Homo sapiens: one gene and its partners. The protein of the gene in region 1 interacts with the protein of each later gene in a pairwise test. Each region holds a gene or a part of one and is shown in the gene's direction. Other genes may lie near its edges.

Region 1 (3,669 bases):
GGCAATGTGGTGAAACACTGTCTCTACTAAAAATATAAAAATTAGCCAGGCGTGGTGGTGCATGCCTGTAATCCCAGCTACTCGGGAGGCTGAGGCAGGAGGATTGCTTGAGCCCAGGAGGTAGAGGTTGCAGTGAGCCGAGATTGTGCTACTGCACTCCAGCTTGGGCAGCAGAGTGAGACCCTGTCTTTAAAAAAAAAAAAAAAAAAAAAAATTCTAGAAGTAATTCATTATAGAAAGTTTAAAGAAGTGTTTGTGTCCTTTTTAATTTAAAAATGTTGTTAGCATCTGGGTGCGGTGGCTTATGCCTGTAATCCCAGCACTTTGGGAGGCCGAGGTGGGTGGATCACCTGAGGTCAGGAGTTTGAGACCAGCCTGGCCAACGTCGTGAAACCCCGTCTCTACTGAAAATACAAAAATTAGCTGGGCGTGGTGGTGAGTGCCTGTAATCCCAGCTACTGGGGAGGCTGAGGCAGAATTGCTTGAACTCAGGAGGCGGAGGTTGCAGTGAGCCAAGACTGCACCATTGCACTCCAACCTAGGCAACAAGAGCAAAACTCTGTCTCAAAAAATATATATATATAAAAAATATATAATATATATAATACATAAATATAATTTTATATATTATATACATCATGATGTATATAATATATAAATATATACAATATATAATATAAATATAATTTTATATATAATATATATTTTATATATATTATATAGTTTTTATATATATAATATATATAGTTAGCTTTTTTTTAAGATCCTTTGAAAATTAAGTTCACCTTCAAAGGAAAAATTATTTTCAGGTCTTTTGTAAAATAAGTGTGCCCCATTTTTCATTATTTTCTTAATCCATGGATGGCTAATGAGCACACTGAGTAGAATGTAAAACATTAGTTTTTGGAAAAAACATTTAATAGATTGAATCAGATTTGTACCAAGACCATTTAGATCTTGTAATTGGATTTCAGACTATAATAATTTTTCTGGTATCATACATTTTCATGAAAATTTTATGTTGATATTCATTTTATATATGTTTTTAGGAGTTTGAACAGTGTTTGTCAGAATTCACAAACCATGTTAGGTACAATGAGTCATTTACTCCCCAGCCCAGCCTAGATTGTCCCCATGTATGAATGCTGGTTTACATCCTGTGGTTAGTTCTTTGTTGGCTGTGTTTATGTAACCCTGTGCTATTTCATTTAAAATAAAAGTTCTGATTTGGTTGTCAGCTGCTGAGGAGCTTGATATGGAAAATGAATTTTTATTACCACCTGTTTTTGGCGAAGAATATGAGGAACAGCCCAGACCTCGATCTAAAAAAAAGGTACATTCACTTAATAGCCTATATAACAATATTTCTCTATAGGCAAACAAGGATACAGTGTTCTTTTAGTGTGCCTGAGAATATGGGAACATATTTTGTTTTCTAGGTTGGAAAATAATTTATTTTCTATTTATATAGAATATAGTAATAATATATTACTGCTATTTATTACTATTATTTATTACTATTTCTATTTGTATAGAAATAGTAATTATTACTATTTCTAGTAATAATAGTAGTAATAATTTATTTCTAGTAATAATTTATTACTGTTTCTAAGTAATAAAAATATCTCAGATTTAGTTGATACCTCAACTAAACTTGTATTGATACAAGGTCAAAATAGAAAACAGTTGCTAAAGTAGTAAGTTCAATTATTTGACAAAAATTTAGACTGTTTTCTAGGGAGCTGTTTTTTCCACGATTATTTCTGATGAGATGATCAGTGGGGTTGAAGTACACAGTTTATTATTTCTGGTCTCTTTTAGGCATACCAACACACATAGAAAGACATGCTGGACAGTTTGATCATTCAGGTAGACCAAATCTACATGCATTAACAAGTGTAATTGTTATAATATTCTGTCAACTTTCTGTGTTTCTGACTTCCAACATAAAGCAGGTTTTAAAAATACCTTAAGAAAGATAGCTTTCACAAATTGTCCCCAAAAGAAAGAAAAAAAACCGGAAAAGGGAGAGAATACTTGGAGTGGAATGAAGGTGGACTTCTGCTTGACACCAAACACAACAATTAACTCAAAATGAGCCATAGACCTAAATGTAAGAGCTAACAATATAAAACTCTTAGAAGAAAACATAGGCCTAAATCTTAATGGCCTTATGTTAGGCAGTTTCTTAGGTAAGATACCAAACGCACAGGGAAGAAAAGGAAAAATAAATAAATAAACTGGACTACATCAAAATTAAAAACTTTTGCATTGCAAACAGTGCCATCAGGAAAGTGAAAAGGGGGCCAGGCACAGTGGCACCTGTAATCCCAGCACTTACAGCACTCAGGAAGGCTGAGGCGGGAAGATTGGTGGAGCCCAAGAGTTTGAGACCAGCCTGGGCAACATAGTGAGACCTCTACAAAAACTAAAAAATAAAAACCAGCCAGGCATGGTGGCACGTGCCTGCAGTCCCAGCTACCCAGGAGGAGGATCGAGGCTGCAGTGAGCTATGATCGTGCCACTGCACTCCAGCTTGGGCAACAGAGCAAGACCTCTCCTCAAAACAGAACTCCAGCATGGATACTTACCTGGCAGGGGAGATACCGTGATTACAAAACTCTAGCATGGGTGACAGAGCAAGGCCCTGTCTTAAAAAAACAAAAATAAAACAATAAAATAAAAAAGTGAAAAGTACTTAAGTGTCACTCTCTATAAGGTGGAGTTGTTGAAAAGTTCTTCAGTTTCTGTTACAGTAATATTTAGATTATTAGTTTATTGTCTTATATTTATTTTCTCATCATTGGTGACTCTCACCACAGAATTTAATATGATTTTGTTGCACAAAGTGATTTATGTAGAAACATCACATTTCCTGGAATATTAATTGACTGTTGTCAGATTCAGGAATACCAGTCAGTTCAAAGCAAATACCTATATTTCATTTTTTCTTTTCTAATTTCATGACACATTAAACAAATAACTATATTTTTATGACAGATTAAACAGATAACTATATTTGTAATTACAGATGACCGTTGTACAATGCAGTGGTTGGGCTCTGATCCCCCCTGCACAGTCACAAATTTGTGTATAACTTTTGACTCCCTAAAAAGTTAAGTACTAGTAGCCTACTCTTCACTGAGCCCCCCTGCACAGTCAAAAATTCATGTATTACTTTTGACTCCCTAAAAAGCTAACTACTAGTAGCCTACTGTTGACTGGAAGCCTTGCTGATAACAGTTGATTAACACATATTTTATATGCTACATACTGTATTTTTATAATAAAGTTAGCTAGAGAAAATGTTATCAAGAGAATCATATGGGAGAGAAAATATATTTACGATTCATTAGGTGGAAATAGATCATCCTCATTGTCTTCAAGTTGAGTAGGCTGAGGAGGAAGAGGAGAGAGGTTGATCTTGCTGTCTCAGGTGGCACGATTGGAAGAGGTAGAAGGAGGTTGGAGAGGCAGGCACACAGAAAAACATACGTGTCCAAGTGGACCCCTGCAGTTCAAACCCATGTTGCTCAAGGGTCAATTGTAATTTGCCTTTGTTGAGAGATGGCTTGTATAAAGTAATGAAATAATGTAGGCTTTAAAAAAGATATTATTATGGTGTTTTTTACTAATAGGGAGCCAAGAGAAAGGCTGTATCAGGATACC
Region 2 (3,620 bases), on another chromosome or scaffold:
AGAAACATTTGCATATCTGCATAGATCTTACAACTGTACTCTTTACCTCCTTGTGATAAAGCTTTGTCTACCTGCAAACACAGTCAAAGGCTACAGCTGCAAACCAAAGCCAACTCTAACCATGGCCAAGAGCTCAAGGACAGAAGCAGCCACATGCTTTGGTCAGCCTTCTGTAACTTCAATTAGTACAAAGGAACCTTTTCCATGAACTACCTGCTGTTTTCTGATGACCTCTGGGATCTTTTCATTTAGCCCTAAACAAAGAAACAAATATGACAAAAACCACAACTAAAAAATGTTAATTCAGTCACAGAGTAATCTTCTGAGGCCAAAAGTCCATCTAAATGCAATGAAGATTTGCTTTCATTAAAGACAGAGGTGAGGACAAAATCCGCAGTGGAAGTTATGATATGCTAGAAAGCAACAAATGTGGATCACTGACCAAAACGATTATGTACTTGATGCAAATGCAGATTGCATATTGTTATATATATAGTACTTTGTGTTTTTGTTTTCCCTCATTCAGTCAGTTATTTTCAGTGGTGAATACATGTTGTTAGAAGATGTCTTGTATGGTCTTAATCTTTGTTGTGTACTATTTTTTTATAGTCTTAAGTTATAATGAAAAAACAAAAAGTAGGAACCAAACATAAAAGGTCTAGTAAAGCCAAAAATTAATTTCATATTGATTTTAAAGTGATCTAGCTGAGTTTTTACACTGAAAGCAAAGATTATAGCAATTGTAGTCCATGGTATTTATTTTCAGTCAAACCAAAGTTACATATAATTCTGCCTCTGCTTATACGGGATATTAACACTAACAATACACTCCCTTCAAAGACTTGCACAGGCCAAATTGTTGGAATGCTGGTTTTCTTGACAATTCCAAACCCCAAAACTATGATAATGAGTTATGATGTAGTTGAAAATAGCATAGTCAGATGTTTGCTTAAAACCTAGAAACTTAACATGTTGCTTTTCATGTGCTGTGCCAAGTCTTGATAATACTTTTTCCCCCAACCAAGGGACCTCATAACCTGATTATGGTTATTGCTTTACAAACAGTTTTGACAGAAGGTGGCTGCTAGAGCTTAACATACGTTCCCGTTCCATGTGATGGAACCGGTTCTTGCAAACTAAGCTCATCATTGATTCTTTGCTGAAGTCAGCAAATAGAGTTAGAGAGATACCCAGTCATCTATCACACCAAATAAAAGGACATAACGGCTTTCAAAAGGGTTTTCCCACTTACCCAAAAGGCTTTCTGAAAGCTTCTACCTCTGCAAAAAAAAAAAAAGAAAAAAAAAAAAAGAAAAACATTAGAACAATTATGGCAGATTGCATGAAACGTGAGAACGTCACAGTAACTGCTACTTTTCATTATGTTTGTCTTTGGGTCATGATCAACGAACCGGAAGTTTACAATATGGTATTAAAAGAAAGATGGGTATGGTGAAAGATGGTTTTCAGTCATCTAGGATCCTACTGTAAGGATTATCTGAAAGGAAAAATGGGTCTTTCAGGTGCATGTTCAAAAGGCTTTGAGGGACTGGAAGTAACTGCGAGAGTTGTACCATCAGAAGGGTGGCCTAAGACTACAATGCTAAAGTATGCATACCTCAGTTAGAAAACTTTTGAAAGGAAGTCTCAGCCACAGAATGCATATACCTGTAGAGTTTTGCATGGGTTTTATATGAATACAATTTTAAAAAATAGCTGCTTGCACATTATACCAGAAAAACCTCCAAAACTGCAATTGCTTTGAAAATAGATTTTAGGTTTTTTGGAGTTTCCTGAAATGCTTGGTCTGTATTTTGATAATTGTGCATATTATGTAAAAATGTTGGTGGACCCATAAATGACCAGACTTTTTCTAAGAAAAATGTTGCTTTAATGCATTTCATGAATTTTTACTCTTATATCATTGCTTGCTAGTAATAGCAAATCTGCTTTTCTGCATCTGCTTTGCGTAGCTATTGTAAGGCTTTGAACTAATGTATGTATTTATTGCTTGAACTTCTGTGCATACCTTATAAAGCATAATGTCTGACAATTTAAATGGCTCATGTATTCTTGCTTCTATCATAAGCTGATTATGGGGACTATGATCTTTTGTATACAGCAAATTTTAAACTGTAGCACAAACATCTGTTTATGTATTGGTGGAATATACCTGTTTTATTTATCTTTTTTGAGGTAAACTAATTTTTGATACTTTTCATTACTGTGTACTATGTTCATACTTTGAATTCTCTGACGTTAGAAGTCATGGTTGAGAATTGTAACAGCTGTTATTCGTTCTGTATTCATGGCTTTCACTGCTGAATAAAATAAAGGACCAAACCTAGGATTTGAAAGAAAACTGTCTACCTCTAACACCAGGGAGTTATCAGATTTTATTTTACATAGTTTTAGTCTACAAAGACACAATTGCTTAAACCTAGTGGGCTTAAGGCTTATATTCTATGTGGTTGGATTCGTGGCACAGTTGTACTATTTGAAAATCAATTAAAATTTTATGTGAATGTTACAAGTATTTGGTAGAATTACCACTAACTGGGTTTTCTTTAGATAACTCAGATATGGAGAAAATGTCATCAGCATTCTGTGTCTACAGCTGCTTAACTTCATAAGAATGCATTTCTTTGTGATTAGGGAATCGAAGAATAGTCAGCTAGGAATAGAGCTACAGAAGTACACTTACATAAACCATCCTGGACTTTAATGTCCCTGGGCAGATTCAGTCGCAAAATCCAATATGATATTTTGTAAAGTTTTCAAGTTGGACATTTACATTTTTGAGAATTTTGAGACTTCATCTTACACATGCCAGTATTAACACACATTTGGACAATAGCTTTATTAAGTCTATAAAGCTATTGAAAGGAACATGGCTTACCCTTGTTATTTCACTAGTTCAGGTTGCAACGAAAGGTTTTTTTGTCCATGAACACTTGGCATATCTTACTTAGCAAAAAAGAAGGATGTACATTTTACTATAGAATTAATGTATGAACAGTGTGTCACTGCTGTTGGATGTAAAAATGTATATGAAACCATTTCATTCACTTGATTACATTTCTGAAGTATAAATAAAAAAATCTAATTCTTTTTGACCCATTTATAACCAATAGGATTTTATTCTTTCGGAGAGACCATTCTTCCATGCCAGAGCCAAGTCATAAATTTGTATACACATGTCCCACAATTTGTTTAAAATTATTTTCTTAGGGATTTGGGATTCATAAACCAGACCATACTCAAATGTAAAGATGGAGGCTGCTTGTCAAATGCATTCCATTAAAAACTGTCTTCAGGTTCCAAATTGCTTCCCCACACACTTATCTCATGTTTTCGTGTTTTTATTCTGATACAATTTGACATTATAAATTCTGAACATTAAAAAATGCCAGGGGAAAACATGATTACTCTTTTTAACTTTATGACTTTTTTGCTTTATTGTCTTTTTTTGTTTTGCCTCTGAATATCAGTCACACCCACAGCATCCAGCCATGGTTTAGGGGAATGTGTCAGAGATAGGTAAGTAGCTTCCAAGAAAATGCTTTTTAGGATATTAGGGATCTGTTCCAGACCCATATTAGTGGAAAAAAACAGGCAAG
Region 3 (3,669 bases), on another chromosome or scaffold:
TTGGCTGGGTCTCCTCCCAGCCCACCCCCCTCCCCTGCTCATCCCTGAGCTGGGGAAGGTGGGCCGCTGCTGCGTGGGACATGGGATGGGATGAGGACTATCATGTTTGTGCTTGGCCAAGCAAGCCGCCTCTGAGCTCCTCTTCACTGCACCCACAGAACGCCGTGCGCCACAACCTCAGCCTGCACAAGTGCTTCGTCCGCGTGGAGAACGTCAAGGGTGCCGTGTGGACTGTGGACGAGCGGGAGTATCAGAAGCGGAGACCGCCAAAGATGACAGGGTATGTGGGTCCAGAGCTGGATGGGCTGTACCTGCCCAGGGGGCAGGAGCCAACTCACCCCCACCCCCTACCTCTCCAGGGTACACATGTGCACCAGATCCTTCCTGGCTGGGGGAAGGGGTGTGGGGAGAAAGGAGCAGAGGAGACTAGTGCTTGGGGACAGGGGGCTGGAATCCGGAAGTGATGGATAATCAGAAGGCAGACATTTATGTCCTCTTCTGTCCTCACTCTGACTGAGGGAAGGGGCCAAGAAGGAGGCCTGGTAGCAAAGAGAGACAGGGGCCCCAAGTAGCCCTGGCCAGAGCTGGCACACAGGCAGATGCCAGCCAACGGGCCATGGGTGAGGGGCTGCCACCCCCAGGGCACCCGCTCTCTCAGCTCATCAGGATGACTAGACCTCTGAGGTCCCGCGACCCCACCAATTCATCTTACGGCAGAGGAGAGCCAGTGAGGGCCAGGGGCTGGCAGGAGGCCCCAGAGCAGATTTGTGGCAGAGCTGGTTCCAGGACCAGGTCTCTGCCCTCCTGGTCTTTTGTGCTCAGCTTCACTTCACCACCTGGCATTTTATTTATTTACTTATTTATTTATTATTTTTTTAATTTTATTATTTTATTCATTTATTTTTTTTGAGAAGGAGTTTTGTTCTTGTTGCCCAGGCTAGAGTGCAATGGCACGATCTCAGCTCACTGGAACCTCCACTTCCCGGGTTCAAGCAATTCTCCTGCCCCAGCCTTTCGGGTAGCTAGAATTACAGGTGCCCACGACCACGCCCGGCTAATTTTTTTTGTATTTAGTAGAAATGTGGTTTCACCACGTTGGTCAGGCTGGTCTCGAATTCCCAACTTCAGGTGATCCACCTGCCTTGGCCTCCCAAAGTGCTAGGATTATAGGCGTGCACCAGCGCACCTGGCCTATTATTTTTTTGAGACAGAGTCTTGCTCTGTTGCCCAGGCTGGAGTGCAGTGGCACGATTTTGGCTCACTGCAACCTCCACCTTGTGGGTTCAAGCGATTCTCCTGCCTTAGCCTCCCGAGAAGCTGAAATTACAGGCGCCCACCACCACACCCAGCTAATTATTTTACTTTTGGTAGAGACGGGGTTTCACCCTGTTGACCAGGCTGATCTCGAACTCCTGACCTCAGGTGATCTGCCCGCATCGGCCTCCCAAAATGCTGGGATTACAGGCGTGAGCTACCGCACCTAGCCTCCACCTGGCAGTTTAAACAGAAACTGAGGAGCCTGGGACAGGGTCAGGACCTCCCTTTGGCTTCCACGTAGCAGCAGTGGCCTTCTCCCGACCTCAAACAGCCCCACCCCAGCCACCTGCTTGCTGTGCCCCTTGGGCCAGAGCCCCTGGGTAAGGAGAGGAGAGCAAGTTAGATGGATGTCTCTGAGGTGTGGGGTGTCTGCTCCCCTCAAAGATGCCTGCTTACCAGGCAGGAGCCTTTGCACCCCAGGCAGTGTGCAGCCTGGAGAATGGAGGGAAGCCATCCCCTGGTGAATGCCTAGGGGCCAGTCTCCAGGCCTGGCTGCGCTTGCACCTCTGCTTCTCACCAGTTTGGTGACCTTTGGCTGTTTCCTTAAGCTCTGTGAGAGCTCTGTGATGGTGTCATCACTGGAAGAGGGACAGCCCCCAGCCACTGCTTTTCCTGTCCCAACTCCCGAACACCTTCCCGTGCAGAGAAGCCTTCTGTATGGAGGCTTCCATACAGAAGCCTCCATGTGGGACAGGCTGAGCATATGTCTGACATGTCCCAAAATCTAGGATGGCAAGACAGTGTGGGCAGACCAGGTGTGTAACTACTGAGACTATAGATTAGACCTTGCCAAACATTGGAAAATCTAGACCGGAGAGAAAACGGGTGGGGGGGCAGCATGCTGTGAAGGCAGACACTGGGGGGATGCCAGTTCCCACTTCCCAGCTCCGAGACCTGGACAGGTCCCTGAACCAAGCCCATCGCACCCACCTGTGAAGGGGCTGCTCCTGCAGGGCCAGTTGAGCGTGAAGACCGAATCAGACCAAGTACACACACAGCTCCAAGACAGCGGCTGATCCGCCCTGGCCTCCCGGAATAGGGAATGGGACCCATTCCCAGCACAGGCCGTTACTTAGTGAGAGTAAAGAGATGCGAATGAAGAGCTAAGTGAATGAGTGAGCCAAAGATGGCCTTCTCTGTCCTCCAGGAGCCCCACCCTGGTGAAGAACATGATCTCTGGCCTCAGCTATGGAGCACTTAATGCCAGCTACCAGGTGACCTGCCCAGAGCCCACCCACTCACCTCTACCTCCCGCCCCCTTGCTTTCTCATACAAGAGACCCCCATCCTCCCCTGCAGAGGACTCACCAGAGGAGGGAAGGAGGGTGAAGACCCAAACTCTCCGAGACCCCACCTCTCTGCCCCACCCCAACTCGGGGCCAGCCTCCACCTCTGCTTTCAAGGCTGGGTTCAGACAAGGCAGGCAGCTGGGAGGATGGCATACCTATAGCATCCCCTTTCCTGGTTTGTCAGTCTGGGGGTTCTCTGTTCCCTGGGAGAGGGGATAAGCCAGGCCCAGGTTCCAGGAAAGCTAGGAGGTAGGAGGTCGGGGGGTCAGAGTTCCAGCCATGGGGGAGGGGTGCTACATTCAAAGGCTGAGTTGGGGCTTGGGGGTTGCCCAGACAGATCCGCCCGTGGGGCCAGTAGGCAGACACACAGGCAGCTCTCTAGTGGGCGGGGAAGGCACAGCACTTGACTGAGTGTGCCCCATCCTGTGGAGCCACTGACGAGGCCCAACCCTGTGCCCCTGCAGGCCGCCCTGGCCGAGAGCAGCTTCCCCCTCCTCAACAGCCCTGGCATGCTGAACCCTGGCTCCGCCAGCAGCCTGCTGCCCCTCAGCCACGATGACGTGGGTGCCCCCGTGGAGCCGCTGCCCAGCAACGGCAGCAGCAGCCCTCCTCGCCTCTCCCCGCCCCAGTACAGGTGAGCACACAGCACGGACCCCCACCCACCCCAGCACCCCTCAACCACCAGGGAGGAGGCGTCATCCCCCACCCTGGGTGGGGTTCCCCATCCCACCCCCACCACGCCTCTCCCCAGGACAAGTGGCTTCTCTCTTCCTTCCCTCAGCCCTCTCAGCCCTCCCTTGTCCCACCTGCCTGTTCTTATCCCCTCTCCCCACCTCCCCACCTTCCCACCTTCTCCTCCCCATTTTCCCCCTTTCTTATTTTTCCTCCTCCTCTCTTCTCTTTTTTTTTTTTTTTTTTAAGACGGAGTCTCGCTCTGTCACCCAGGCTGGAGTGTAATGGCAAGATCTTGGCTCACTGCAACCTCTGCCTCCTGGGTTCAAGTGATTCTCCTGCCTCAGCCTCCCAAGTAGCTGGAATTATAGGTGCCTGCCACCATGCCCAGC

The links. The genes of interacting proteins can lie anywhere in the genome.
Region 2: the proteins of ZMYM2 (region 1) and FOXP2 come close enough for resonance energy transfer, tested with the Homo sapiens proteins (one study listed by BioGRID).
Region 3: the proteins of ZMYM2 (region 1) and FOXP4 come close enough for resonance energy transfer, tested with the Homo sapiens proteins (one study listed by BioGRID).

The regions. Positions count from the first base shown.
Region 1 is NC_000013.11:20,063,213-20,066,881, forward strand, and holds part of ZMYM2 (zinc finger MYM-type protein 2), read left to right. Parts: intron 1-1,238; coding exon 1,239-1,333; intron 1,334-3,638; coding exon 3,639-3,669. UniProt on the Homo sapiens protein: Involved in the negative regulation of transcription.
Region 2 is NC_000007.14:114,690,646-114,694,265, forward strand, and holds the end of FOXP2 (forkhead box protein P2), read left to right. Parts: 3' UTR 1-3,120; downstream 3,121-3,620. UniProt on the Homo sapiens protein: Transcriptional repressor that may play a role in the specification and differentiation of lung epithelium. May also play a role in developing neural, gastrointestinal and cardiovascular tissues.
Region 3 is NC_000006.12:41,594,712-41,598,380, forward strand, and holds part of FOXP4 (forkhead box protein P4), read left to right. Parts: intron 1-158; coding exon 159-280; intron 281-2,464; coding exon 2,465-2,531; intron 2,532-3,069; coding exon 3,070-3,239; intron 3,240-3,669. UniProt on the Homo sapiens protein: Transcriptional repressor that represses lung-specific expression.